Regions from separate parts of the Homo sapiens genome. Here region 1 is linked to region 2. A link means that fine-mapping ties the variant in region 2 to the expression of a gene that starts in the linked region. Tissue or cell type: blood mononuclear cells. Region 2 holds a variant in brackets; the other region holds the start of a gene. All regions are shown on one strand. Distances are from middle to middle.

Region 1 (15,816 bases), 37 kb after region 2:
AGACAGGGTTTCACCATGTTGCCCAAACTGGTCTTGAACTCCTGGGCTCAAGTGATCCTCCTGCCTCAGGCTCTCAAAGTGTTGGGTTTACAGGCGTGAGCCATGCACCCAGCTATCTGTTTACTCTTATAGCCCCCGCACAGTACCTGAACACAGAAATATTGGTGAATGACTGAGTGAAAGGGACAGGCCTGCAATGAAGTGTCGACATAACTCCCCGTCTCTTGCCTGCTTGTTTTCCCCCAACCTCCTTCAGCCTCAAGTCATTTCCTTCAGCTCCTAAATTCATCAGGCTTATGAGAGAATCTGCATCATTTCCTCTGTTTCCCTGCTAGGATGGAATTTAGAATTCAGATGCTAAGATGTAAAAGGAAGGAATAAAATTGAACATGGAAAGAAATACTGAATACAGAATACTCCCCCGAGTGGCTACCCATCTTCACTGTAATCAGTAATCTCAGTGTGCAACTGTTGAGGCTTGAGTTTACACGGCAATAATCCTCTTACCTTCTAATCAAGATCACTCCAATAGCTTTGCAGTTAGACTTCCAACTGCATTATGCATTCACAAATTATTTCTTTGTCAATGCTGTATTGGTACAATTCTAATCTCCTAGGGATTAAACACAAGTATTCATTCTTCTTTATCCTAATATAGTTTATCTCCATCAAAGTTGAATTTTTATGTTTTCCATGCTAATTCCTTTGTGTAATTAATAGTCCATTTAAAATGAATAGCAATTAAGAGAAAACACCTATATGTCTGTATGTTGTCTACTACAGTCTTTTCTGATTCAATGAGTTCTTGACTACTTAGAAGAGGCATGTATAATTTTTGGATTTTTCTCATATATTTTTTCTCCTCTTCTTTCCTCTTATTCACTTCTGAGCAATTTCATCCTTTACTAACAATGCCACAAATGCCAGGTTGGTATGATAGATGAAAAGATGTAAAAATTGCAATAATACTTTCTCTCAGGGACTAATGTATCGCATAGTACATGCTATGCTGTCAGAGTTGACCAAAGAAGAAAAGTCTTTTCAGCCAGGTACCATGGGCCACACCTGTAATACCAGCACTTTGAGAGGACAAGGTGAGCCCAGGAGTTTGAGACCAGCCTGGGCAACGTGGTGAAACTTCATCTCTACAAAAGTTACAAAACTTAGCTGGGCATGGTGGTGCACACCTGTAGTCCCAGCTACTTGAGAGGCTGAGGTGGAAGGATCGCTTGAGCCTGGGGGGTCAAAACTGCAGTGAGCCATGATCATGCCACTGCACTCCAGCCTGGGCAACGGAGCAAGACCTTATCTCAAAAAGAAAAACGTCTTTTGATATAAAATAGGATTTCAAGTAGATTTAAGCTAGTCATACACTTATTCATTAAAAAGTATTGAACAATTACAAATAAATATTGTTTGGGAAAGTGACAATGTATTTAAAGCCGTACAAAGACTAATTCTTAGTGACCAAGTCTCTGTAGCCCACCCCCCCCCAATGTTTTAACTATTTTAGACAATTGGCCACATGGCATTTCATAATTAAACAAACATGGGTTATGTCTTTTATTTTTATTTTTTTTTAAGATGGAGTGTCACTCTGTCTCCCAGGCTGGAGTGCAGCGGCATGATCTCGGCTTACTGCAACCTCCGTCTCCCAGGTTCAAGTGATTCTTCTGCCTCAGCCTCCCAAGTAGCTGGTGAGAGGTGACAGCGTGCTGGCAGCCCTCACAGTCCTCGCTCGCTCTCCGCACATCCTCTGCCTGGGCTCCCACTTTGGCGGCACTTGAGGAGCACTTCAGCCCGCGGCTGCACTGTGGGAGCCCCTTCCTGGGCTGGCCGAGGCCGGAGCCGGCACCCTCAGCTTGAGGGGAGGTGTGGAGGGAGAGGCGCGGGCGGGAACCGGGGCTTCCCGTGATGCTTGTGGGCCAGCGCGAGTTCCGGGTAGGCTTGGGCTCGGCGGTCCCCGCGCTCGGAGCGGCCAGCGGGCCCCGCCGGCCCCGGGCAGTGAGGGGCTTAGCACCTGGGCTGGCGGCGGCGGAGGGTGTAGTGGGTCCCCCAGCAGTGCCGGCCCACCAGCGCTGCGCTCAATTTCTCGCCGGGCCATAGCTGCCTTCCCGCGGGGCAGGGCTCAGGACCTACAGCCCGTCATGCCTTAGCCTGCCCCCGCCTCCGTGGGCTCCTGTGCAGCCCCAGCCTCCCAGACGAGCACCGCTCTCTGCTCCACGGCGCCTAGTCCCATTGACCACCCAAGGGCTGAGGAGTGTGGGCGCAGGGCGCGGGACTGGCAGGCAGCTCCACCTGCAGCCCTCTTGCTGGATCCACTGGGTGAAGCCAGCTGGGCTCCTGAGTCTGGTGGGGACTTGGAGAACCTTTATGTCTAGCTAAGGGATTGTAAATACACCAATCAGCACCCTGTGTCTAGCTCAGGGTTTGTGAATGCACCAATCCACACTCTGTATCTAGCTAGTCTGGTGGGGACTTGGAGAACCTTTATGTCTAGCAAAGGGATTGTATATACACCAATCAGCACCCTGTGTCTAGCTCAGGGTTTGTAAATGCACCAATCAACACTCTGTATCTAGCTAGTCTGGTGGGGCCTTGGAGAAACTTTATGTCTAGCTACGGGATTGTAAATACACCAATCAGCACCCTGTGTCTAGCTCAAGGTTTGTAAACACACCAATCAGCACCCTGTGTCTAGCTCAGGGTTTGTGAATGCACCAATTGACACTCTGTATCTAGCTACTCTGGTGGGGACTTGGAGAGCCTTTGTGTCCACACTCTGTATCTAGCTAATCTATTGGGGACTTGGAGAACCTTTGTGTCTAGCTCAGGGATTGTAAACGCACCAATCAGTGCCCTGTCAAAACAGACCACTCGGCTCTCTGTAAAATGGACCAATCAGCAGGATGGGGGTGGGGCCAGATAAGAGAATAAAAGCAGGCTGCCGGAGCCTGCAGTGGCAACCCGCCCCCGTCCCTTTCAACACTGTGGAAGCTTTGTTTTTTCACTCTTTGCAATATATCTTGCTGCTGCTCACTCTTTGGGTCTACACTGCTTTTATGAGCTATAACACTCACTGTGAAGGTCTGCAGCTTCACTCCTGAGCCAGCGAGACCATGATCCCAGCAGAAGGAAGAAACTCCGAACACATCCGAACATCAGAAGGAACAAACTCCACACGTGCCACCTTAAGAGCTGCAACACTCACTGCGAGGGTCTGCAGCTTCATTCTTGAAGTCAGTGAGACCAAGAACCCACCAATTCTGGACACACTGGGATTACAGGTGCATGCCGCCACGTCCAGCTAATTTTTGTATTTTTAGTAGAGACAGGGTTTCAACACGTTGGCCAGGCTGGTTTTGAACTCCTGACCTCAGGTGATCCACCCGCCTTGGCCTCCCAAAGTGTTGGGATTACAGATATCAGACACTGCCTGGCCGGTTATGTCTTTCTTGATTCTAATCAGTATGTACATAATTTTGCATAGATATATTGATTAGGGAGGCATTTATGAAGGGCAGGTAGTGGAGAGGCTGGGGTAAGGTTAGGTAATAGGAGTTCTAGGGGATTCCATACTTTGGCCTATAATGGAATTGTAGCCTACCCAGCACTTTAAACATTCCCGATTGACTCCAATATTTGTTCTTCTAGCCACTCCTTCCCCTCTCAGCCAATGTACTTAGGGAGAAGCTGATCCCATGCTAAGTTCCAGGAATGGGCTTTATTTTCCAGGAATGAATCCATACCCTTTCCAGTAAAGGGCTCTGGAATCCAGGTCTAATGAGTCCATACCCTTTCCAGTAAAGGGCTCTGGAATCCAGGTCTAAGTGCCATGTGATTGGTTTAGGAATGGACCAATGAGACACTGTGAGGAAGTTTCCTGAGGGCTTCTGGGAATTTTCTCATAATAGAAAGCTACCAGAATTCACAGGCCCTTTTCATCTTGACTTCTTGTCCATAGACCTGAGGCCAGGGGCTGTGGCAGGCATTTTGTAGGCAGCCTAAGGGTGAAACATGCACAAGAGAGAACAAGACAACACCACAGAGAAGCAGAGCTCAGTAATGGCTGAGCCCTGCCTCACCTCCACCATTCCTAGACCTTCTCAGTCTCTTAGCCAATGAACAGCCTTGATTTTAAAGCAATTTTTATTTGAGTTTTTGCTTCTGGAAGCCAAAACAAACATTTTAGCCTATGGAATCCCAATTTATACTTAACGTTTTTATTTGTTAATCTTTAAGTTTCAGAATTCTTTTCTGATTATAAAAATAATACATACTTATTGTAGAGAACCAAGAAAACATTGAAAGATATAAAGAAGAACATTAAGACCATCCATAATCTCACTATCCCTAGATAACTGCTATTGAGTTTTGAGTTAGTTTCCTCTTTATGTATCCAAACTTACACAGAAATTTTACACATATATTTATCCTGCTTTAATGAAATTCACAGCCTAGTGGGAAATAGAAACAGACAAACAAAAACCGAACAAATAGATGAATATCTGCGACTATGGAACGTCATAGTAACTACTAACCTTGTGTTCACTGTTTTTGGGTAAATGTTGCTAATAATGTTATACCCCATCTCCACAACCCAGAACAAATCAAAGATTTATGTTAATAACTATTAAAATATAATATGCTCTAAAGTATAACAATGTCTCATAATGCCACAAAATCAACCAGTTACCAATATGTTCATTTGGTTTCCCTTCAGTAGGATTTCTTATGGGAAATTGTCCCCTGTCAGTGACTGGTTTCGCTCAACTGTCATTAGGTCTTGTCACAGTAGTTTAATTACAGCAAAAATGGCTGTTATATTGATCATTTTGACAACACACACACAAAAGGTTCAGTATTCATCAGTGTGCTGGGTAAAAACCCTTGGAGCAGGGCCCTCAAGAGGATGGAAGTTACATTGCTATGATTAGTACCAAGCCCATCAGTTCTAAATGTTTTCTAATTTCTATTATGATTTTATGACCCATGAGTTAATTGGAATAGTGGAAATATGGGGCTTGCCAGTTACCTTTTGGTTATTGATTTTTAACTTACCTATATAGTGACCAGAAAATGTGGTTACTATGATATAAATCCTTAGATATGTGGAGACTTGCTTTATGACACAGTATGTTCAATTTTTGTAAATGTTTAGCATATTCTTGATAGGAGTGTGTATTCTATGGTCATTAAGGCAATATTCTACACATATATATTAGATTAAGCTTGGTAATTGTGTTACTCAACTCTTCCAGTACCTTAAAGATTTTTTTGGTCCCCTCGGTCTATGTATTAGTTTCCTGTAATCAGTTGCTTAACAAATTATCACAATAGGTGGCTTAAAAAAACCGACATGAATTCTCAGTTCTGGCATCTAGAAGTCTGAAATCTACATGTTGGCAGGGTCACAATCCCTCCAGAGGCTCAAGAGGAAAATTTGTCTCTTCCAGCTTTGGGTGCTGTCAGCATTCCTTGACTTGGGAATGCCATCACTCCAATCTCTGCTTCTGTGGTTACATTACCTTCTCTTCTCTTCTACCTCTCTTTTATAAAGACACCTATCATTGGATTGATGGCCCACCTGGATAATCCAGGATGATCTTCTCATCTCAAGAACTTTAATTACATCTGCAAACGCCGTTTTTCCAAATAAGGTCATACTCGCAAGTTCTAGGAATTAGGATATGGACATATCTTGTGGGAGGCTGTATTCAACTCACTGCAATTAGAGAGGGAGTGAAAAATCACCTACTCTGATGGTAGATTTCTTTGTCTTCTTATACTTCTGTTCATTTTCGCTTCATATATTTTGTGGCCATATAGTCGCTATGATATAAATCCTTAGATATGTAAAGACTTGCTTTATGACACAGTATGTTAGAGACACTTTTTTGACTCTATCTTCCCTGTATATTGGACTTTTTTTTTAAATGTAAAGACCCTTCTTTATCCCATCGCACTCACCCAGCCATCTACCTAGAGTCTGTTGATGATAAACCATTAGTTGTTTGAAACAGAATTTGCCTTCCTTCTGCCTCTCTTTTTGCCACACATGTAATTCTAAGGTTTTATGTTTTCCCCTTCAGCATACCACTTAATTCTCTTTTTTTTTTTGGAGACAGTCTCACTCTGTCACCCAGGCTGGAGTGCAGTTGCGCGATCTCGGCTCACTGCAGCCTTGACCTCCAGGGCTCAAGTGATCCACCTAAGCCTCCAGAGTAGCTGGGACCACAGGCACACGCCACCATGCCAGGCTAATTTTGTTTTTAGAGGCGTGGTCTTGTTATGCTGGTCTGGCTGGTCTCGAATTCCTGGGCACAAGCGGGCCTCCCATCTCTGTCTCCTCAAGTGGTTGAATTACAGGCGTGAGCCACTGCGCCCAGCTCGCATTTTTTTTTTTTTTTTGAGATGGAGTCTCGCTCTGTTGCCCAGGCTGGAGTGCAGTGGCGCGATTTCGGCTCACTGCAACCTCTGCCTCCCGGGTTCAAGCAATTCTGCCTCAGCCTCCCGAGCAGCTAGCTGGGACAACAGGCACGTGCCACCACGCCCGGCTAACTTTTTTGTATTTTTAGTAGAAACGGGGTTTCCCGTGTTAGCCAGAATAGTGTCGATTTCCTGACCTCGTGATCCGCCCGCCTCAGCCTCCCAAAGTGCTGGGATTACAGGAGTAAGCCACCGCGCCCGGCCTGAGCCGGCATTTTTAAAAGTTGGGTTGCTGGCCTTAGTGCATACAAACGTAAAGGAATTTTAAAAACACATGAGTAACTCAAACGCATTTCTTTTTTGCGCCATCCTGCTATGTGTGATTCGGTTTTTATTCTCGATTTTGTGCGTGTGTGTCGCGACGGCTGGGGACCGACCCAAGAGCAGTCGGACCACGGGCCGCCCAGGGCGGTCTCATCCGTTTATAACCTGCGACCCCGGGGCCTCTTGTGGTCCCGTACCTCCGTCCCAAGCAAAAGCCGGGGCTCTCAGGCACTCAGAGGTGCGAAGGCCCCGTAGACTTGGAGGACGCGAGGAAAACACCTCCAATCACTCTGGCCAGTCCACAGCTACTGCCAAGACTGCTCCGCGCGCGTCCTCAGGAACCGGCGAGGGCCTCGTCGTCATGGTAACCAGATTGCGAACGCGCGTGCGCAAGACACACCTTTGTCACGTGAGGCCGGGCAGGGGGCGGGGCCGGCGAATGCCCGTCCCGACCCGTCGCGCCTCCCCTGTTAGCTCCCTGCCAGCCGAGGCGGGGCGAACCTCTGCCCTGTTGCGTGGGAGTGACTCACAGCTCCCGCCCCTTTTGGCTCCGCTTTCTCGCGGCCAGTCCCTCGCACCACGTGCCCTCCTGGCCGCGCCCCCAGCTGCCCTTTCCAACTGCCTGTTGGAAGCCGCTGTAAAACGTCGTGAGGAGCGCCGCTGCTTTACGGCTGCCTCTCCCAGACTAGAGCCCCGGAGCGCCCACCGCCGTCAGCCGCGTCTTCAAGCTAGTCGGCCCCGCGGAGAGCGAGAGACCCTGCGCACCGCAGCCCTCTCCGCTGCGCCCATTCCTGCCGCCGGCGATGTAACTCGGGGAGGCAGCGGTGCCCGCTGGCCCGGGGTTGAGACAGGCGGCAGGTGCCTGTGAGGCGGGCGGGTGCCGGGGGCCAGCAGGATGGAGGAAAGCATGGAAGAGGAGGAGGGGGGCAGCTACGAGGCGATGATGGACGACCAGAACCACAACAACTGGGAGGCTGCGGTGGACGGCTTCCGGCAGCCCCTGCCACCTCCGCCGCCCCCCTCGTCGATCCCGGCCCCTGCCCGAGAGCCTCCGGGGGGGCAGCTGCTGGCGGTGCCCGCGGTCTCCGTGGACAGGAAAGGCCCCAAGGAGGGGCTCCCGATGGGGCCGCAGCCACCGCCGGAGGCTAATGGGGTGATCATGATGTTGAAGAGCTGCGACGCGGCCGCCGCCGTGGCCAAGGCGGCCCCCGCCCCCACCGCCAGCTCCACCATCAACATCAACACCTCCACCTCCAAGTTCTGTGAGTCCAGCCTTTCCCTGCAGCCTTGGCTTTTCTCCACCTCACTCGGACGCCGAATCCACCCCCTCTTGGAGAAAGCTCCGCTTCCTTTGTTTCAGGCCTCGGTCTTTCCTCTTCTCCCCGTCCGCCTTCGCCTCCCTGCCTCCTTCCCCCTCACCGTCCCCTCCCCCTCATTTGGTGTCTGCGGCCAGCGCCTGAGCGGCCCTGGCTTCTTGTATTACCTGGCCTAGAGAGGCAGCCTGGTACACACGGAGCCCCAAGTTCGGTCAGTGCGATCCCTATCACAACTGGCAGTCTCTCAACATTGGGAAGCTCTTTTCGCACCCGTCTTCTCTTGAAGTTTCACCCTCAAAGTGAGGGGAAAATAAGGCTGCCTGAGTCTCGTTAGGGAAAGGCCTTCAGTCTTCTGCAGCCAGAGAGAGAAAAGAAATCTGGCAACTTGTGTTCTTGTGTTTTTGGCCAGGCTGTGTTAAACAAGTAAGGAATTTGAAAGTTGACCTATATCTACACCTTGTTCCTTCTCTACTGTGTTACACTTTTGCATCCTGCTAGGGAAATAATGAGTTGCTTTCCGATGCAGTGGCAGCTCCGACATCGTCTTGAAGCTAATAATGCATAAAATCACTTTTCAGAGCTTACACTCATAAGAATAAGCCTTTCAGGATGGGTTATGTCTTGTGTCCAAACCCAAGATTGGGTTGCATGTTGAACTTTATGTTAGTAGTCTGTCTTAACGCTCAATTGCACGCATTAAGATTTAAGACCAAAATCTGTTTTGTAATCCGAAACTGCCTCTGACCAGGATATATGTATGCTTCCATAGCTAGGAAAAGAATGTGCTTTTACTTTGGTTTGTGTGTATGTGTGCGTGGCGGTGGTGGTGGTGATAGGATGTTGAAAATGATTGTGACCATCACAGCCAGGTTTTTCTCTCCTATTATTAACTGCAAGTTTTGAGTGGCATCTGGTAAAGCAACTGGAGAGTTCATTTCTAGCTACTAATTTTATGAAGCTGTACTTGTCCAGTTAGCTGTGCAGAGAAAATATTTGCCTTGATGCAGATAGTCGGAATCTTACACACTGTGTGTGGGAACAGCGCGTAATTTTATTTGCCCCAAGATACTGCCTTAGTCAAAGACATTGATATGTACGTTTGGTAAGATTATATACGCTTTTTCTCCTTATTCATGATAATCATGTTTATATTGTATAGTTTGTGTGTTGAAGGCTGTGTTGTGGAACCAGACCTCCTGTAGAGTGGCAGAATGACTTCACCTGAGTCACGAAGGAAGATTGCCTTAGTAAAGTTCCTTTGAAGAGTTCAAAAAAGAGCATAAAGTTAGGAACAGAAATCAGTAAAATTGAGAACAAAAGGATTTGTCACACCAAAAGATTATTTTTGTGAAAAGATGAGTAAGCTAGGCAGACAGACCTCTGATAAAAACGACAAGAAAAAAAGATGCAAATAAATGAAAAATGGAAAATAACTACAAATATCAGATTAAAAAAAGAACGTTATGAACTTAGGCTGATGAATTTGAAAGCCTAAATGAAAAATATAGTTCTTAGAAAACTAGTAAATGTGAAAATTGGTATCAGAAGAAATATCTTGAACTAATAAACTGAAATGGTAAAGATCTCCCTTTTTAGAAGCTCTGCATCCAGATACGCTGATGAGTTCCACCATACTTTAACACTTAATTCTTTTTGCAAGTTGCACTGGAAAATAGAAAAAATACCAAGTTCATTTTATGAGGCTTGTGAAATCTTGATTCTAAAACAGATAAGGACATGTAAGAAGAGAAAATTATAGGTCTGTTTTACTTAGCATAGAAATGAAAATACTGCAGAATAAATACTCGCTCATCAAATCCAACAGTGTGTTACAGAGTCCTGATCCATAGAGTTAGTCCTAGAGATGAAAGCATGGTTTAACATCTACTTATCTAATTTAGCTCTTTAATAGACTAAAGGAAAAAAATTACGATTATCTCAATTGGTGCCCTGAAATCATTCAACTAGATCCAGCAGCTATTTATGATAAAAACTCTTGGTAACCTAGGAGTACAAGATAACTAGATAAAGGTCATTACCAAAAACCTTCAGTAAATAATAATACTTAATGGAGAAATTTTAGATACATATACTTTAAGATCCGTAACAAGATAAGGATGCTCCTGTCATTACTACTGTTTAGCATTGTAGGAAGGTCCTGGCTAACATTATAAGGAGCAAAAAAATAAGGTATAAAGATTGTAAGGGAAGCAATAAAAGTTATTATTTGCAGATAATATGATCACCTACCTAGATGAACCATTAAAATCCAGAGAAAACTTAGAACTAGTAAGAGTTTAGCAGGATTGCTGGATTTAAGATAAACTTACAAAAATTTGATAGCATTTACTAAACTAGTGATAACTAGTAAAGATAATCAAAAGTAAATACTATATGTAATAATAGCAACAAAACTCTAAAGTCTCTAGGAATCAACCCGTGAATACGCAAGACCTTTAAAAAGGAAACTTTAAAACTTGAAAAAGAAACTAGAGGATAATCTAAATAAATGGTACAATTTTCCTTGCTCTTGGATCAAATTACTTACAAGAATACTAATTTTCTCCAATTTATAAATTCAGTTTAAATGACGTCAAAATTACATTTGGTTTGACAAACTCAATAGCCTAAGTCTAAAATTTATATGGTGTGTGGGATAAAGTTTGTGAATAACAGAATCAATCTTAAAGATTTGTTTGGGGATGGGAGGCTTGCCTTATTAGAAGTTAAGATGTCAAGGCTGTAGTTAAAGTGGTGTAAGTGCGAGAACAGAAAAATAGACCAAGGAAACAAATTGGAGGGCAGAGACTTACCTGGATACATGTATAAAAGTTGGGAACTTTTTAAGTGGCATCATAAACCACTGGAGAAAGGAGTCATATGTTGTTAGGGAGAGTGACTCACTATATAGAGAAAAAATAAATTTAATATCATAAATGGATAGACTCCAAATGAATTAAAGACCTAAATGTGAAAAGAAAAACCAAAGTTAACATTATTGAAAATGTTAAGCTCTTTCCCTAGGGACAGGGAAGTACTTTTTAAAGCTTCAAAAGTTTATAAAGGTGAAAAATTAATTATTTTGATTATATGAAAATTATTCATTTGGCAAAAGATGAAAAAATTAGAGAAGATATTTACAGTGCCTAAAATTAACAAGGGATGATGATCTGACTAGACAAGGGACTACTTACTATACATCAACAAGAGGGCAGCAACTTCTGTAGAAAAATAGGCAAAGGATATTAATAAGTAGCTTATAGAAAGAATAGGAAACCCTAAAAAGCATAAGAAGAGATGAATTTATTAATATTCAGAGACATGCATATTAAAATAGTAATGGAAAAGAGTATAATTGGATTGTTTGTAAAACAAAGGATAAATGCTTGAGGTGATGGTACCGCATTTTCCCTGATGGGATTATTACACACTGTATGCCTGTATCAAAATATCCCATATACCTCATAAAAATATATGCCTACTATATACCCACAAAAATTAAAGAATAAAATAGTAACGGAATGTCTTTTTCCACCTTTAGGTTGACAAAAATTAGAAAGCTGAATGAATAGTGCCAAGTGCAATGGGGATATGGTAATACAGGAAAACGTATACTTGCTTGTGGGAATAGCAGTGTAGTGAACTTGTGAGATGTTGAGATGTCCGAAGTCTCTGTGGACCAGATAGTGGAAGATAGCTGCCGCGTTAATGTATCCCTCAGCTATGGCAGTGAAGGTATACTTTAGACTGTAAGGTGAAAACAGCTTCTGTTGGTTTCTAGTTTTGGGACAGAGATAAAAAGCATTTATTATCTTGATGGATACATGGTAGGTGCCAGGGATGGTGTTGATTTGTCACAGTGAAGAGACCATGTCTGGAACAGCAACTAAAATTGGAGTCACTTTGGATTTGATCGATGATAATCCACAGTCATGCTCCAAGACTCATCTCTTTTGCTCTGGCCAAACAGACCCATGAAATAAGAATGTCATAATTATCACCATTCCTTTTTTTTTTTTGAGACAGTCTCGCTCTGTCGCCAGGCTGGAGTGCCGTGGTGCAGTCTTAGCTCACTGCAATCTCCGCCTCCCGGATTCAAGCAATTCTCCTGCCTCAGCCTCCTGAGTAGCTGGGATTACAGGTGTGCACCACCATGCCCGGCTAATTTTTGTATTTTTAGTAGAGATGTGTTTCACCATGTTGGTCAGGCTGGTCTCAAACTCCTGACCTCAGGTCATCCACCCGCCTTGGCCTCCCAAAGTGCTGGGATTACAGGCGTGAGCCACCACGCCCGGCCCTCCTTTCTTATTTTTAAAGTCTTTGACATTGATAGTGTTTTCTATAGTTCCCACAGAGATGTGTTGTTTGTTGCTTCGAGTTTATTACTTTGGTAGGAAAGGGTACATCTAGCCCTTCCTATGTTGATATTCCTGACTTCACAGGTTAGGGAACCATGAACTAGTTTCAGAACTGGGGGAGTTACAGTGTTACTACGGGTCCACCAGCCCTACTGTGAGATGGATTGAGGCCAAAACACCATTTATGTGACGTCCATAAGCCCCTGATCTGCCTGGTTTACCATAGTGACGTTCCTGTCTCTTAGGGTTCGTATTGGCTTAGAGCCAGTGTTTATTAATCTTTGAAAAGTCTCAGTGATTTCCATTTCCCAAATGTACTATCTCCCTAATAAATACCTGCATGTTCTATTGGAAAAGGCTAGGAGGAAGACTTTAATTATGTGGGGTTCTTCCTCAGTGGAACTCATCCTCTTCTTTATTCCAGCATTTCTGTGTCTGTGAATAGGCTCATTGTGGGTTTTAGGTGAGGTTACATGGCTTTCCATTATGCCACTTAGGTGAGACCTCTGTTTAATATATCTAGAGTTTTTCTTTTCTGTCCATTATAACAGATCAAGTAATACCCCAGTATATTGCCTTTGTTTTCCTAAGGATATCATGGTTAGCCACCATGAGGGAGATCCAAGCCACCAGAAATCCAAGCCACCAGAAATCCAAGCCATTCTGCTGATCACTCTGGCCCTGCTGCCTCTTTAAATAATCATGCCCATTTTATATCTGGAAGTTATTTCCACTTCGTCACTCTGGAAGTAGAACTATTCCACTGAAATCAGGGAACCTCTTTTAATGGCAGTATTGCCCATCGTTAACCCAGAATTACAAGGGACAACCACCACAGCATTTTTTTCAGTAATTATATTTAATTATTTATATATTTCTCAGTTGGTGAAGGACCTTCTCAGAGCACAGTTCAGGGAGTAAGAGTGGGTTAGAACATGACAAATTTATATTCCTTTCTTCATATGTCTGGACTCATTTCTCCACGTACTAAGTAATTTCTGTTCTGACTGCTTCCTCCCTCCTCCTGACTCTTCTTCCTTTTCCTTTCCTCTTTTTCCTGTGTCCATTTTCTTCCTCCACACCTCTTCTCCTCCATTCAATATAGTGTACCCATTTTAGGTGTGCAGTTTGATGCATTTTAACCCATGTCGCCGTCTGGTGTGGAATTTGATTTTACCCTACTAATACTTAAAAGGTAGCCTATTACTGTTACAGGTTGACTATCCCTCATCCAAAATGCTTGGGGCCAGAAGTGTTTTGGATTTCAGATTTTTTTCGGATTTTGGAATATTTGTGTTATACCAAATGATTGAGCATCCCAAATCCAAAAATTCAAAATCCAAAATTTTCCAGTGAACATTTCCTTTAAGCATCATATTGGTGCTCAAAAAGTTTCAGATTTTGGATTTTTGGATTTAGGATTCTCAACTTGTATTACTGGGTGCTGACATAAGATGGGGGACTCCTGAGTGAGAGATGAAGGAATTTATTTTTCTTGTCATAGCACACAGCATGAGAATTGCTATATTTGCATAGTTTCCCCTTCCCCCAAGTCCCAAGAGGGTGACATACTATGACCAAGATGGATGCTCTCTCAGTGGTTCTGTGTTGCAGCTGAAGAACATCAAACTTGGGGAATCCACTACTTTTATAGAAAGCAGTGAGCAAGCCTGCTCTTTGTCTAGCGGGAGATGTTATCTCGTCTTTCAAGGTTACCAGGTACAGAATGGCCCAGGTTCAAGAGTGATTGCATTCCTGGCATACTCAATAAGACATGTCGGAGTGCGTGAGGCCCACGGAGGACTGTCTGTCCAGCAGTAACCACCACAACAACCAAGAGAACATTTCTGTCACCCTGAAATACTTCCCTATGTTTCTCTGTCTCTCTCTTTTTTTTTGGAGATGGGATCTCACTCTGTCGCCCAGGCTGGAGTGCAGTGGCACGATTTCGGCTCACTGCAACCTCTGGCTCCCGGGTTCAAGTGATTCTCCCACATCAGCCTCCCGAGCAGCTGGGATTACAGGCACACACCACCACACCTAGCTAATTTTTGTGTTTTTAGTAGGGATGGGGTTTCACCATGTTGGCCAGGCTGATCTTGAATTCCTGGCCCCAAGTGATCTACCTGCCTTGGACTCCCAGAGTGCTGGGATTACAGTTGTAAACTACCATGCTCTGCCTTCCCTGTGTCTCTTTGCAGTCAGTTAACGCTGCCTGCTTCCTCCAGCCCCAAGCATTCCTACTGATCTGCCTTCTGTCACTGTAGGATTTCATATAAATGAAATCATACAATGTGTATTGTTTTGTGCTTGGCTTGTTTCTTATTCTGTTCTTGAGATTCTTCCACGTTCTCGCATATGTCAGTTACTTATTCATTTTTCTGACTGAGGAGTAGTAGTTTTTTTTTTTTTTGGATATCCCAAAGTAGTCTTTTTTTTTTTTTTTTGATTTACCAAAAAATCATTAATTTGTTGGTCATTAGGTTGATCATTTAGGTGGTCTCTGGTTTTGGCTGTCATGAACACAACTGCTGTAAACAACCATGTACAAGGTTTGGTGTGGGTAAAGGTTTCATACAAGTGGAATTCCTTGCTTATATATTACTGATACGTTTAACTTTATGAGAAACTGCCAAACAATTCTTTAGGGTGGTTGCACCATTTTACACTCCCATCAGCTGTATATGACAGCTCCAGTTGCTCCACTTACTTAATTGGCACTTGTACTGGTTAGGCTCTGCATTCTTGGTATTGTCAGTCTTTTAAAGTTTAGCCTTTCTAGAGCATCGGTCCCCACCAGGGACCAGTTGCGTGGAAGAGACAATTTTTCTGTGGACTGGGGGATGGTTTTGGGATGAAATTGTTCCACCTCGGATCATCAGGTCTTAGAGTCTGGTAAGGAGTGCGCAACCTAGATCCCTTGCGTTATAGGGTTGGCGCTCCTTTGAGAATCTAATTCCTGCGCTGATCTGACAGGAGGTGGGGCTCAGGTGGTAATGCTCGCCGGCCCACAGCTCACCTCCTGATGTGTGGCCTGGTTCCTTACAGGCCACCGACCGGTTCCTGTGGCCTGGGGTTGGGGACCCCTGTTCTAGAGAATCGTAGTATCTCTTTGTGTATTTATTTTGCATTTCTCTTTTACATGTGCCGTTGGCTTTTTCATGTGATCATTTGCTTGCCTTATAATTTTGTTTGTGATAATCTGCTCACATCTTTTGCTCATTTCTTTTGTTGTTTGTCTTAATGTGTTTAAAGAATTCGCTATAAATTTTGGATACAAGTTTTGTCAGACAACTATTATTACTGTTTTCTCCCTCTGGTTTGTCTTTTTTTTCTTAACGGTGTCTTCTGAAGAGTACATGTTTTTCAGTTTTGATAATGTCTAAACT
Region 2 (15,816 bases):
CATGCCTGTAGTCCCAGCTACTCGGGAGGCTGAGGCAGGAGAATCGCTTGAATCCGGGAGGTGGAGATTGTAGTGAGCCGAGATCACGCCATTGCACTTCAGCCTGGGCGACAAGAACAAAACTCTGTCTAAAACAAACCAACCAACCCACAGCTGCTCCTTCTAAGCTATGTTTTATGCCACAGGCCCTTGGGTAATGTGTTTCCGCTTCTCCCCAGATAGAATACCACTCATTTTAGCTTAATGTCTTTGTTCTTGAAATTGTCCGTCTCACCCAATCTTCCTCCCATCTCAGAGGCAGGAATAAAGCTTACCTTGTTCAGCAAGCAGAGTACTGGCTCTTGGGTGGAGGAAATGTATTCACAATTTACAGATAAACCTCACAAAGTTGTTTCTGATCAGCAATTGCTTTGAGAGTGAATCTCTCCTCAAACTCCACCAGCAGATTGTGTTCTGTGTTGCCTTTCTCAGCAGCTTTCTGGATCCTTTTGGGCTAGGAGCAGCTCTTCTCGGGCTTCATGCTTATTTTCTGTAAAATGAGCAGGAAGTCAATGTCTCCTAAAGTCTTGCCATTTCAAAGTGTGCTCCTGGGACAAGGGGAATCTGCAGCACTCTGAAACTTGCAAGAAACGCAAAAAAAAAAAAAAAAAAAAAAAAAAAAAATTCAGGCATTGCACCAGGACTTCAGAATCTGTGTCCCCAGGTGATTGGCTTGTACATGGAAGGTCGAGAAGAGCTACTCTGAAGTCCCTTATTGCTATAAAGCTTTATGATTCTTTGGGAAGGTATCCTGTAGCAACAGCCAAAACACATTGAGTCCTTAACTCTGTGCCAGGGATTCTTACATGAGCTCATCTCATCCTCAGCACAAGCCCAAGGCAGGGGTAATCATGATTCATATTTTACAGGCGAGAAAGCTGACACTTGGCTCAGAGAAACTGGCTTCCTTGGCAAAGGTCACCCAGCTAATTGGGTACAGAGCTCGATCCACCCTCAGGTCAGCCTGACTTCAACCTCCCCTCTATGTGGTGTTGCCTCAGGGGTCCAAGGCAAGGTTTTGAGGAGGAATTGACCTGTGAACTTTGTATTGTCAGATGATGAGTTTGCCAGGTTGTAAGTGGGAGAGAGTCATTCCAGAGGAGAAAAGAACCAGCGAGTGGCCCAGAGGAAGGAGAAAGCTGGGCAAGTCCAGAAGGTGGTCTGAGATTTAGTTTTAACAAAATGAATGTTAATTTGGTATGAGCTTGTTTCTGTTGAGCACAGGGTGGGAGGAGGGAGAGATAGTCAGGTTACCGAAATTACCAGCAAGTTTAGATGAAATCTAATGACATTTTAATGTGTTTTCTGAAGATACTGTCTATTGAACTGAAATATATCACACCAGTGAAGTATGCTCATTGTTCTGGAGAAAGATCATTCTTGCGGATTGACTTTGATTTTTGTAATTTTGCTGCCAATATGTAAAAAAGGTCAACTTCACCCTTGCTACTTAAAGCAACTCCAAGTCAATAGAGCCTAGAAGTCTCTCTTTGGAAGGATGGATGTTACCAAGGAATTGTATAGTTGAAATTCTTCTTGCACTTGCCAGGTTCTGAAGTTGTCCTCAGGGGATCCCCATTTCACTGGGGAAAGGATCAAAGAGTCATATAGAGAGGCCAGAAGTAATTTCCTAACATAGTAGAGCCCTGGTAAAACCCTCAAAGTCAAATCTCAGAGCCATCTATTGGAGTGAACATTCTTTTTTTTTTTTTTTAATTATTATTATACTTTAAGTTCTGGGATACATGTGCAGAACATGTAGGTTTGTTAGATAGGCATACACGTGCCATGGTGGTTTGCTGCACCCATCAACCCGTCATCTACATTAAGTATTCCTCCTAAAGCTATCCCTCTCCTAGCTCCCCACTCCCCAACAGGCCCCAGTGTGTGATGTTCCCCTCCCTGTGTCCATGTGTTCTCAGTGTTCAACTCCCACTTATGAGTGAGAACATGCAGTGTTTGGTTTTCTGTTCATGTGTTAATTTGCTGGGAGTGATGGTTTTCAGCTTCATCCATGTCCCTGCAAAGGACACGACCTCATCCTTTTTATGGCTGAATAGTATTCCATGGTGTATATGTGCCACATTTTCCTTATCCAGTCTATCATTGATGGGCATTTGGGTTGGTTCCAAGTCTTTGCTATTGTGAACAGTGCTGCAGTAAACATACATGTACATATGTCTTTATAGTAGAATGACTTATAATCCTTTGGGTACATACCCAGTAATGGGATTGCTGGGTCAAATGGCATTTCTGGTTCTAGATCCTTGAGGAATTGCCACACTGCCTTTCACAATGGTTGAACTAATTTATACTCCCACCAACAGTGTAACAGCATTCCTATTTCTCCATATCCTCTCCAGCATCTGATGTTTCCTGACTTTTTAATGATTGCCATTCTAATGGGCGTGAGATGGTATCTCATTGTGGTTTTGATTTGCATTTCTCTAACGACCAGTGATGATGAGCTTTTTTTCATATGTTAGCTGGCCGCATAAATGTCTTCTTTTGAGAAGTGTGTTATATCCTTTGCCCACTTTTTGATGGGGTTGTTTGTTTTTTTTCTTGTAAATTTGTTTAAGTTCTTCATAGATTCTGGATATTAACCCTTTGTCAGATGGGTAGATTGCAAAAATTTTCTCCCATTCTGTAGTTTGCCTGTTCACTCTGATGATACTTTCTTTTGCTGTGCAGAAGCTGTTTAGTTTAATTGGATCCCATTTGTAAATTTTGGCTTTTGTTGCCATTGCTTTTGGTGTGTTAGTCATGAAGATTTTGTCAATGCCTATGTCCTGAATGTAATTGCCTAAGTTTTCTTCTAGGGTTTTTATGGTGTTAGGTCTAACATTTAAGTCTTTAATCCATCTTGAATTTATTTTTGTATAAGGTGTAAGGAAGGGGTCCAGTTTCAGTTTTCTGCATATGGCTAGCCAGTTTTCCCAACACTATTTATTAAATAGGGAATCCTTTCCCCATTGCTTGTTTTTGTCAGGTTTGTCAAAGATCAGATGGTTGTAGATGTGTGGTGTTATTTCTGAGGCCTCTCTTCTGTTCCATTGGTCTATATATCTGTTTTGGTACCAGTACCATGCTGTTTTGGTTACTGTAGCTTTGTAGTATAGTTTGAAGTCAGGTAGCGTGATGCCTCCACCTTTGTTCTTTTTCCTTAGGATTGTCTTGGCTATATGGGCTCTTTTTTGGTTCTATATGAAATTTAAAGTACTTTTTTTCTAATTCTGTGAAGAAAGTCAGTGGTAGCTTGATGGGGATAGCATTGAATCTATAAATTACTTTGGGCAGTATGGCCATTTTCATGACATTGATTCTTCCTATCCATGAGCATGGAATGTTTTTCCATTTGTTTGTTTCCTCTCTTATTTCCTTGAGCAGTGGTTTGTAGTTCTCCTTGAAGAGGTCCTTCACATCCCCTGTAAATTGTATTCCTAGATATTTCATTCTCTTTGTAGCAATTGTGAATGGGAGTTCTGGAGTGAACATTCTTTTTTTTTTTTTTTAATTTTTTTTTTATTTTTATTGATCATTCTTGGGTGTTTCTCACAGAGGGGGATTTGGCAGGGTCATAGGACAATAGTGGAGGGAAGGTCAGCAGATAAACAAGTGAACAAAGGTCTCTGGTTTTCCTAGGCAGAGGACCCTGTGTGTTTGTGTCCCTGGGTACTTGAGATTAGGGAGTGGTGATGACTCTTAACGAGCATGCTGCCTTCAAGCATCTGTTTAACAAAGCACATCTTGCACCACCCTTAATCCATTTAACCCTGAGTGGACACAGCACATGTTTCAGAGAGCACCGGGTTGGGGGTAAGGTCATAGATCAACAGCATCCCAAGGCAGAAGAATTTTTCTTAGTACAGAACAAAATGGAGTCTCCTATGTCTACTTCTTTCTACACAAACACAGCAACAATCTGATTTCTCTATCTTTTCCCCACATTTCCCCCTTTCCTATTCGACAAAACCGCCATCGTCATCATGGCCCATTCTCAATGAGCTGTTGGGTACACCTCCCAGATGGGGTGGCAGCTGGGCAGAGGGGCTCCTCACTTCCCAGAAGGGGTGGCCAGGCAGAGGCGCCCCCCACCTCCCGGACGGGGGGGCTGGCCGGGCAGGGGCTGCCTGGAGTGAACATTCTTTAAGCCCATCTTTAAAGAGTTTGTTAGAGGTCCTCACTCAGGGATGAATCACTTGGATAGAAACATGAGAAAGAAAAGAAAACCTATACATCACTCTCTATAACTTGGATTTTCCTCTTCTGAGGGGGTATCTGAATCATCTAGGAAGAATTGAACTATAAGGAACACAACCTGCAAAGAAAGGTGGCCTAAACCATGAGGACAGGTACCAAGTAGCCCTGAGTTAGGGCAGCTCCAAGGCTTGCCAATTGGGTGGATTTTCAATGACATTTTGAACTTGGGCTCTTCCCAGTCTGTCTTCTTCAGCCTGTTGGTTTGTCCTCTTGCTGGCCCCCTCATGGTCCCAAGATGGCGGCAACAGTTCCAAAAGTCTACTGGAATGATAAAAGGAAGAATCATCTCATGGATCTCTTTCAAAGAGGAGGGAAGCCTTTCCAGAAAGCCCCTCAGCTGACTCCTCACATCTCATTGGCTGTAACTGTGTTATATGCTCTCTCTTCAACCAATTGCCAGCAAGCTACACTTGGCTTGGATTGGTTAAGATTTTTTCCCTATAGTTGAAGAGGGCACCTTCCCTGGTGCTTGTCCAGGCTAGGCAGAGGGTAAAATCCTGAAGAAAATCAAGGTTCTACCAGCAGCAAAGAATGGATTTGGGTAGACAACCAATAAGAGCTGCCATTAACAATCACTTATTAAGGCCTGGCATGGTGGCTCACACCTGTAATCCTAACACTTTGGGAGGCTGAGGTGGGTGGACTGCCTGAGCTCAGGAGTTCAAGACCAACCTGGGCAACATGGTGAAACCCTGTCTCTACTAAAAATGCAAAAAATTAGCTGGGCGTGGTGGCACGCCTGTAGTCCCAGCCACTCGGGAGACTGAGGCACGAGAATCTCTTGAACCTGGGAAGCAGAGGTTGCAGTGAGCCAAGATTGCACCACTGCACTCCAGCCTGGGCAACAGAGTGAGACTGTCTCAAAAACAAAACAAACAAACAAAAAAACCAATCACGTTAAAAATAACAAAACATTTCTTCAACTTCTGAAGTCAAGGAGTGTAATATTCAACTATTATATAGAAATGCTGCGTAACAGCCACAACAATTTCAGCGGCATAAAACAATAATAGCCATTGATTGAGCTCATCTGTCTGTGGGTCAGCTGGAGGTAGTCTAAAGTAGACTAGGCCTGGCTGGACATGGCTCAGCTCCACCTGACTCTTATCCTTCTCCTGCAACCACAGACTGGTTTGGGCATGTTCTTCTCGCCAAGACGGTTGAGGTACAAAAGCCCAGGCCCGGAGTGTAGGTCTGTTCCAAGCCTCTTCTTGCATCATGTCTGCCAACATCCCATTGGCCAAAGCAGGTCTCGTGGCCAACCATGGCATCGGTGGGGCAGAAAGCCATGTGATGCCCACTTCATGGAAAGTCCCAGAGTCAAATGACCGAGGGTGTAAATACAGGGAAGGGTGACAAACTGGAGTCAATGATGCAATCTACCACACAAGAGGAAAGAAAGAAAATATTACATTGAAAATAAAATTGGGCTGGGTGTGGTGGCTCATGCCTGTAATCCCAGCACTTTGGGAGACCGAGGCAGGTGGATCACCTGAGGTCAGGAGTTCAAGACCAGCCTGGCCAACATGGTGAAACCCTGTCTCTTCTAAAAGTCCAAAAACTTAGCTGGGCGTGGTGGTGGGCACCTATAATCCCAGCTATTGGGAGGCTGAGGCAGGAGAATCGCTTGAACCTGGGAGGTGGAGGTTGCAGTGAGCCGAGATCATGCCATTGCACTCCAGCCTGGGCAACAAGAGGGAAACTCCATCTCAAAAAATAAATAAATAAATAAAAATAAAAATAAAAAATAAAATTAAGGGTAACTTTAAAAATCCTTTTTTTTTTTTTTAAAAAAAACTGTACTTTAACGATTTAAAATCTTTCTTTAGAGTATAAAAGAATTAGAGGCTGTTCAGGTGTGTCTAAACGTTAAAAAATTGTGTGTGGGTATGTGTGTATAGATAGCAAAGGGTCTCAAAAGCAGATTTTTCTAGCTCTGAATGCCACCACTACCTATTGTTCTATTAGCACTATATATTAGGGTATCAGTTTTACAGAGCTAACTACTCCCATTGCTCCCTCTCCCCCTCTTCAAAAGCAATCTGTACAGTCTATATTGAGGAAATAAATGAAAACCACTGAAATGAGAAAAAACAAGGCTGTTTATTTAGAACAGAAACTCAAAGGCAGGCAGGGGAATGGGGAAGCTTTATGGTGAAGAAAAAGGAAGACTTCGCATGTACTTTGATTGGAGGTTGTTGGCCTAGGGAAGCTGGAGGCAGACT[A/T]ATTAGAAACAGGGCATTTTATGTGATTGGTCCTGAGTTGGTTGGAAGCAGGGGCAAAAAATAGGGAAGCTGGCAGTTGTTGCCCAAAGCCTGACTTTTCTGGCTGATTGCTGCAGAGGCTGTGGTTTGGCTTCTGGGCAAGTGACTGCTAAGTTTGTGGATCAGAGGTCTACAGTCATCTAAGGTCTGGCCACTGTCCATTTGTATATTCAGTCTCTCAAGACACATCAGAGAAAGCTCCAGCTCCTCAGCATAGAATAAAGAGCCCTACACACTTGACTCCAAGCAAGGTGGGGTTTCTGATCCCCTCTCCTGACATCAGAGCCACCCCTACCCACAGACACATCCAGATCCCACCTCACCAAACCAACCATGGCAGGTCTTCCATGTCCCCCGTACAGAGTGTGTCTTTCTCATGCCATACCTTTGCCTGAACTTGCCTTTGGCCTGAATACCTCTCCATTGCTTTACACCTGTCCATCAAGAATGGGCCAAGAACCTGCACCCTGCACCTTTTCTCAATCTCTTTTCCTCCACCTTACCTGGTTCTACCCCAAACAGAATTAATTGCTTTTTTCTCTGTGGTCCCTGAACTATTTATATGTACATTTATTGGAGTGGGGGAACTGCACTGTGCTAAAGGCATTTGCTGCTGCTTTTTCCCTTCCCCTATGCTGTGAACACCCTGAAGAACATTATGCTTTATTTGTTTCTAGTATAGGACTCTGCAGATAGTAGTCTTACAACAAAGGCTTTTTTGAAGGAAGAACAGAGGAAGGAAAGAAGGAAGCAAAGAAGAGGGAAGGAAAGGAAGGTCATAGGTAGGGTTGACAGATAAAATACGGGATACCCAGTTAAACTTGAATTTCAGATGAATAACGAATAATTTTTAGTATAAATATGTTCCAAATATTGCATTTGTAATTTTTTTTTTTTTTTGAGATGGAGTCTCGCTCTGTTGCCCAGGCTGGAGTGCAGTGGCATGATCTCAGCTCACTGCAAGCTCCGCCTCCCGGGTTTTCACCATTCTCCTACCTCAGCCTCCGGAGTAGCTGGGACTGTAGGCGCCCACCACCACGCCCGGCTAATTTTTTTTTTTTTTTTGTATTTTCAGTAGAGACGGGGTTTCACCATGTTAGCCAGGATGATCTCGATCTCATGACCTCGTGATCTGCCCGCCTTGGCCTCCCAAAGTGCTGGGATTACAGGCGTGTGCCACCGCGCCCGGCTGCATTTGTAAATTTTTAAATATTCCATGGGACATACTCATACTAAAATACCAGTTGTCCCCTATACAAAACAAATTCAACTGGGCCTCCTGCATTCTTATTTGCTAAATACAGCAACTCTGGTCAAAGGGCAAACACCTAATTAAACATTATTATTACTATTATTTGGGGGGTTTTCTTTTTTTAAATGTCAGTCATTTTTGGGAAACAGGTGGTTTTCTCTTACATGGATAAATACTTTAGTGGTAATTTCTGAGATTTTGGTTCACCCGTCCCACAAGCAATGTACACTGTACCCAGTGTGTAGTCTTTTGTCCCTCACCCCCCTCCCACCCTTCTTCCTGAGTCCCCAAAGTCCATTATGTCATTCTTTTTTTTTTTTTTTTTTTTTTGAGACGGAGTCTTGCTCTGCTGCCCAGGCTGGAGTGCAGTGGCGCGATCTCGGCTCACAGCAAGTTCCGCCTCCTGGGTTCACGCGCCCGCCACCGCGCCTGGCTAATTTTTTTGTATTTTTAGTAGAGACGGGGTTCACCGTGTTAGCCAGGACGGTCTTGATCTCCTGACCTCGTGATCCGCCCGCCTTGGCCTCCCAAAGTGCTGGGATTACAGGTGCGAGCCACCGCGCCCGGCCCCCCATTATGTCATTCTTAGGCCTTTGCGCCCTCATAGCTAAGCTCTCACTTGTAAGTGAGAACATAAGATGTTTGGTTTTCCATTCCTGAGTTACTTCACTTAGAATAATGGTCTCCAACTCCATCCAGGTTGCTATGAATGCTATTCACATGAGTAGTATTCCATGGTGTACATATAACACATTTTCTTTATCCACTCATTGGTCACTGGGCATTTAGGCTGGTTCCATATTTTTGCAATTGCGAATTGTGCTGCTATAAACGTGTGTGCAAATGTCTTTTTCATATAATGACTTATTTTCCTCTGGGTAGATACCCAGTAGTGGGATTATTGGATCAAATGGTAGATCTACTTTCAGTTCTTTAAGGAATCTCCATTCTGTTTTCCATATTGGTTGTACAAGTTTACCTTCCCACCAGCAGTGTAAAAGTGTTCTTTTGTCACCAAATCCATGCCAACATCTATTATTTTTTGATTTTTTATTTATGACCATTCTTGCAGAGTAAGGTGGTTTCTCATTGTGTTTTTAAATTTGCATTTCCCTGATACTTAGTGATGTTTAACATTTTTTCATGTTTGTTCGCCGTTTGTATATCTTCTTTTGAAGAACTGTCTATCCATGTCCTTTGCCCACTTTTTGATGACGTTGTTTTTTCTTGCTGATTTGTTTCAGTTCCTTGTAGATTCTGGATATTAGTCCTTCGTCAGATGCATAGTTTGCGGATATTTCCTCCCATTCTGTGGGTTTTCTGTTTGCTCTTCTGGTTATTTGGTTTGCTCTGCAGAAGCTTTTTAGCTTAATTAGGCCCCATCTATTTATTTCGTTTTGTTGCATTTGCTTTCGGGTTCTTGGTCATGAACTCTTTGCCTAAGCCAACGTCTGGAAGAGTTTTACCAAAGTTATCTTCTAGAATGTTTATGATTTCATGTTTTAGATTTAGGTCTTTGATTCATCTTGAGTTGATTTTTGTATAAGGTGAGAGATGAGGATCCAGTTTCATTCTCCTACATGGGACTTGCCAATTATCCCAGCACCATTTGTTGAATAGGGTGTCCTTTCCCCACTTTATGTTTTTGTTTGCTTGGTTGAAGATCAGTTGGCTGTAAGTATTTGGCTTTATTTCTGGGTTCTCTATTCTGTTCCATTGGTCTACATGCCTATTTTTATGCCAGTACCATGCTGTTTTGGTGACTATGGCCTTATAGGATAGCTTGAAGTCAGGTAATGTGATGCCTCCAGATTTGTTCTTTTTGCTGTGTCTTGCTTTGGCTATGTGGGCTCTTTTCTGGTTCCATATGAATTTTAGGATTGTTTTTTCTAGTTGTTTGAAGAATTATGGTGGTATTTTGATGGGAGTTGCACTGAATTTGTAGATTGCTTTTGGCACTATGGTCATTTTCACAATATTGATTCTACCCATCCATGAGCATGGGATGTGTTTCCATTTGTTTGTGTTGTCTATGATTTCTTTCAGCAGTGTTTTGTAGCTTTCCTTGTAGAAGTCTTTCACCTCCTTGGTTGAGTATATTTCTAAGTATTTTATTTTATTTTATTTTTTGCAGCTGTTGTGAAATGGATTGAGTCTTTGATTTATTTCTCAGCTTGGTCGCTGTTGGTGTATAGCAATGCTACTGATTTGTGTACATTGATTTTGCTTCCTGAATTGATTTTGAAACTTTACTGAATTCATTTATCAGATCTAGGAGTTTTTTGGATGAGTCTTTAGGGTTTTATAGGTATATGATCATATCATCGGCAAACAGCGATGGTTTGACTTCCTCTTTACCGATTTGGATGCCCTTTATTTCTTTCTCTTGTCTGATTGCTCTGGCTAGGACTTCCAGTCTATGTTGAATAGAGGTGGTGAAAGTGGGCATTCTTGTCTTGTTCCGGTTTTCAGGGGCAATGCTTTCAACTTTTCCCCATTCAGTATAATGTTGGCTGAGGGTTTGTCATAGATGGCTTTTATTACCTTGAGGCATATCCCTTCTATGCCAATTTTGCTGAGAGTTTTAATCATGAAGGGAAGCTAGATTTTGCCAAATGCCTTTTCTGCATCTATTGAGATAATCACATAATTTTTGTTTTTAATTCTGTTTATGTGAAGTATCACATTTATTGACTTGCATATGTTAAACTATCCCTGCATCCCTGCTATGAAACCCACTTGATTATGGGTGTGTTATCTTTTTGATATGCTGTTGGATTCAGTTAGCTAGTATTTTGTTGAAGATTTTTGCATCTATGTTCATCAGGGATGCTGGTCTATAGTTTTCTTTTTTTGTTATGTCTTTTTCCGGTTTTAGAATTAGGATGATACTTGCTCCATAGAATGATTTAGGGAGGATTCCCTCTTTGTCTTTTGGAAGAGTTTCAATAAGATTGGTACCAATTCTTCTTTGAATGCCTGTGAATCCGTCTGGTCCTGGGCTTTATTTTGTTGGCAATTTTTTTTTTTTTTTTACTGTCTTAATCTTGTTATTGGTCTGTTTAGAGTTTCTATTTCTTACTGATTTAATCTGGGAGGGTTGTATATTTCCAGGAATTTATCCATCTCTAGATTTTCTAGTTTGTGTGCATAAAGGTGTCCACAGTAGCCTTTTGTATTCCAGTGGTATCAGTTGTAGTATCTCCCATTTCATTTTTAATTGAGCTTATTTGGATCTTCTCTTGTCTTTTCTTGGTGAATCTCGCTAATGATCTATCAATTTTGTTTATCTTTTCAAAGAACCAGCTTTTTGTTTCATTTATCTTTTGTATAGGTTTTGTTAGTTTGATTGTTTCCATTTTATTTAGTTCTGCTCTGATCTTGATTATTTTTTTTTCTTCTGCTGGGTTTGGGTTTGGTTTGTTCTTGTTTCTCTAGTTCCTTGAAGTGTGACCTCAAGGCTGGGGCACATTAGCCCTACCACCACACCCAGCTATTTTTCTGTCTTCTTGTCTGATGTTTTCTCACCCCAAGCCAGCACCACTGCCCTGCCAACTGCCAGGGTATCCTCAGATTCTAGGAGCACTGCCTATTATTATTATTTTTAATTATTCTTATTTTTTGAGACTGGGTCTCACTCTGTTGCCCAGACTGGAGTGCAGTGGTGTGATCTTGGCTCACTGTAATCTCTGCCTCCTCAAGCAATCCTCCTGCCTCAGCCTACCAAGTAGTTGGGACTGCAGGTGCACACCACAATCCCTAGCTAATTTTTGTATATTTTGTAGACATGGAGTTTTGCCATGTTGTCCAGGCTGGTCTTGAACTATTAGACTCAAGCAATCCTCCCACCTTGGCCTCTCAAAGTGCTTGGATTACAGGCATGAGCCACCACACCCGGCCCCTGATTAGACTTGAAAATAGTCTGATTCCTAGGCCCAGAGAAAGTCTCTTGGGTCCACTTTTCCCTTCCCTGTTTGCAAGAACTCTGCCATGGGGCTGGCCAGGTTTACTGCTGTTGGGCTGACATGATAAACCCACCAAAAGGGTGGCTCCTTTTTTGGAGATCAGAAACTAGGCTGGTGGTTGCCCAGAGAGTGCTTTGAAGCATCATAGAGGAGAGGAAATGCATGGAATGATTGTGGGAAGACAGGGAGAAGGAACCATAGGACCCCTTTTCTAAGTCTCAGGCATTTCCTCCTCATGGAAGATGTGAGTTGACTGTAAAATACAAGGAGGAAGGCTTCCATGATAAAGCATGGTGTTCAGAGGAGCCCTGCAGAGTCAGGAAGGAGGGAAAGACAGAGGCTGGTCCACACGGTGCCCCAACTCTCATTCTGGACCCCAATTCATCCATTGACATTGCAGGGAGAACGTGTGCAGTGGGCTGAATGATGACCCTAAAAACCTGCGAACGTGACCTTATTTGGAAACGGGGTCTTTGCAGATGTAATTAAAGATTTTGAGATGAAGTGGTCATCCTGATTATCCAAGTGAGCCTGAAATCCAATGACACATGTCCTGATAAAGGACACACAGAGGAAAAGACAGAAACATGGATGAAAAGGCAAAGTGAAGACAGAGCAAAGCCGTCCAAGCCAAGGAATGCTGATGGCACTAGAAGCTGGAAGAGGCAAGAAAGGAGCCTCTCCTAGGGCCTTCAGAGGGAGCGTGGCCCTGCTGACACTGCCGACACCTGGATTTCGACTTCTGGCCTCCAGAACTGTAAGAGAACAAATTTCTATTGTTTTAAGTGGCTGAATTTGTAGTAATTTGTTATGACAGTTGTAGAAAACTAATGGGACATAGGACTAGAGTCCTAAAGCCCAGTCCATGGTCAGGGAAGTGGAGAGGGAGCTGAGGATATCCTCCCCAGGGGCCACAGACTCATGTGAATATAAAGCCTTTTTTGGTTTCTTTTGAGTAAATCACTCGCAATCCCATAGATTTCTGATTTTTTTTTTTTTTTTGAGACAGATTCTTGATCTGTTGCAGGCTGGAGTGTAGTGGCCTGATCTCAGCTCTCTGCACCCTCTGCCCCCTGGGTTCAAGCAATTCGGGTTCAAGTGATTCTCATGCCTCAGCCTCCTGAGTAGCTGGGACTACAGGCATACACTACCATGCCCGGCTAATTTTGTATTTTTAGTAGAGACGGGGTTTCACCATGTTGGCCAGGCTGGTCTTGAACTCCTGGCCACAAGTGACCCGCCTGCCTCAACCTCCCAAAGTGTTGGGATTACAGGCATGAGCCACCGCGCCCAGCCAGATTTCCAATTTTATATAAGACCAAGCCCTACTTACCAGATACTTTTATATAAACTATTCAGTTGCTACTAACATTGGGCATAAGGCATTGTTTTACACTTTAATATCATGTACAAAACCACTTTTTTTTTGATAAAGCAAATCAGTGGTTTCCAAGTGGGGCGCTCAGCACAAGGTGCTGGGTTGTGTGAAAAAATATTGGAACTTTGGGGCTAAAAAAATAACAAAGCAATTATACTTTCCTAATCTTTTAATGTTCAGAAGATGATACTTTCAAGGATCATTTCTATCATTTGTTACTAGAAAAGTTTCTCTGAATGTGTAGAACACCAAAAAGTATTAAACAAAAATTTTAAAAACCCACAAAGCACAAAACGGACTCAGCTTGACAGTCATAGCTTTCCTCAGAGGCTCCTTTGCCACCCATGGCACAGGTGCAGCCTTGAATGCTCTGTGATGTGGGGGCCGGTGCTGGTAACCTCACCACCTGCACATCAACACTCAGGGGAATCTGAGATAGTTTGGTCTATTCGCAAGTGGGTAGATGGATTTATAAACTACACAACCTAGGCCATTTTTTGTTTTTGTTTTTAAAGAGACAGGATCTGGCCCTGTCCCCCACACTGGAGTGCAGTGGTGCGATCTTAGCTCACTGCAGCCTCGAACTCCTGGGCTCAAGCAATCCTCCTGTCTCAGCCTCCTGAGTCGCTGTGACTATAGGTGCATGCCACCACACCCAGGTTTTTTTTTTTTGTTTTTTGTTTTTTTCCTGTAGAGATGAGGTCTTTTTGTGTTGCCTAGGCTGGTCTCAAATTCCTGGCCTCAAAAGATCCACCTGCTTCAGCCTCCCAAATTGCTAGGATTTATAGATGTGAGGCACTGGACCCAGCCCATGATCTAGTTTTACCAAAATTGATCTTTACAAAATGAAAATGTTTTAATAGATTATTATAGATTGAAGATTAAAGATAATACTAATAGTATAAGTCCCAGAAAACCATAAGAAATTGGCAGAGCTTATGTGGCTAGTATCAGCTCTATATCAGCACATTATGAGGTAAAATGAAATCTGCCAAGAAGTCAGCCTCTTTGCCCCCCAAACTAAAATGATCAAGAGGGTCCCTTGAAAGATGGATTTATGTCCACTGTCATTCATGAGCTCACCCTTAGTGTGTATTGTGCCTTGCAATATTATTTATTAATAAAAAAATGCCATCAAAATTAACACTAAAATATTACATCTTTAACTCATCTTTAAAAAATTTTTAATGTAATGTATATATAATGTATACATAAATATGCATGTATTGGAGCTGCAAATGTCTTAAAAAATAGAGATTTCTATGGACTGAACTGTGTTCCAACAAATACATATGTTGAAGCCCTAATCCCCAGTGTGACTGTATTTGGACATGGGGCTTTTAGGAGGTAATTAAGGTTAAATAAGGTCATAAGGGTGGGGTCCTAATCAATTGAATTGGTGACCTTGTAAGAGAGGGATGAGAGAGATATTGTGCTCTCTCTCCCTGTGCATACATCCAGGAAGGACCATGTAAGAACATAGCAAGAAGGCAGCCATCTGCAGACCAGGAAGAGAGACCCCACCACAACCCAACCATACCAGCACCCTGATCTTGGGTTTCCATAACTATGAAAAAATAAACTTCTGTTGTTTAAGCTATTCTGTCTGTGTTATTTTGTGATGGCAGCCTGAACAGACTAATACAGGGATATATGATCAAAAACATTCGGAGACCACTGAGAAATGGGTCAGTGTAGTTGGTTGTGGCAGTAACAGCTCCCACTTGTTCCTGGTTCCCTCGTTCCATGCCCTTGGGTGGTCCCCTCCCACGGACTCTGGCCTTGTGACTTGCTTTGGACAATGTAAAAATAGCTAATGTGTCACAAGCAGAGGAAAGTGCTTGTGAGTTGGTGTTTGCCTTCTTTCTTACCGTGGGACCTTCTGGCACCTACTGAACAAGACCATTGTACCCTCCTTGTGTGTCCAGAATTGGCGGGTTCTTGGTCTCACTGACTTCAAGAATGAAGCCGCGGACCCTCACGGTGAGTGTTACAGCTCTTAAGGTGGCGCGTGTGGAGTCTCTCCCTTCTGATATTCAGATGTGTTCGGAGTTTCTTCCTTCTGGTGGGTTTGTGGTCTCGCTGGCTCAGGAGTGAAGCTGCAGACCTTCACGGTGAGTATTATAGCTCTTAAGGCAACGCGTCTGTAGTTCGTTCCTTCCGGGGGGCTCGTGGTCTCGCTGGGCTCAGGAGTGAAACTGCAAATCTTCGCGGTGAGTGTTACAGCTCAGAAAAGCAGCGTGGACCCAAAGAGTGAGCAGTAGCAAGATTTATTGCAAACAACAAAAGAACAAACCTTCCACAGTGCACAAGGGGACCCAAGCCCGTTGCCAATGCTAGCTCGGGCAGCCTGCTTTTATTCTCTTATCTGGCCCCACCCACATCCTGCTGATTGGTAGAGCCGAGTGGCCTGTTTTGTCAGGGCGCTGATTGGTGCGTTTACAATCCCTGAGGTAGATACAAAGGTTCTCCACGTCCCCATCAGATTAGTTAGATACAGAGTTTCGACACACAGGTTCTCCAGGGCCCCACCAGAGCAGCTAGATACTGAGTGTCGATTGGTGCATTCACAGACCTTGAGCTAAACACAGGGTGCTGATTGGTGTATTTACAATCCCTGACCTAGACATAAAGGTTCTCCAAGGCCCCACCAGA

The links.
Region 1: it holds the start of CACUL1, and the variant in region 2 is fine-mapped to the expression of CACUL1 in blood mononuclear cells (TOPMed, PIP above 0.99). The same link has a PIP of 0.9 or more in whole blood.

What each region holds. Positions count from the first base shown.
Region 1 is chr10:118,746,595-118,762,410 of GRCh38, reverse strand. CACUL1 (CDK2 associated cullin domain 1) reads left to right here and starts at 7,441. Exons shown (of 9, transcript NM_153810.5): 1 at 7,441-8,015. The coding sequence starts at 7,649. LOC107987151 (a long non-coding RNA gene) reads left to right here and starts at 2,962. Exons shown (of 2, transcript XR_001747604.3): 1 at 2,962-3,778; 2 at 3,825-4,658. RefSeq lists enhancers at 7,080-7,374, 7,373-7,512.
Region 2 is chr10:118,783,489-118,799,304 of GRCh38, reverse strand. It overlaps LINC03036 (long intergenic non-protein coding RNA 3036), which reads left to right. Exons shown (of 4, transcript NR_186540.1): 4 at 12,263-14,761. Among named protein-coding and RNA genes, the nearest start is that of CACUL1, 36 kb to the right of the region's middle. RefSeq lists an enhancer at 3,481-4,036. The variant A/T (reference allele first, on the strand shown) is at 6,528.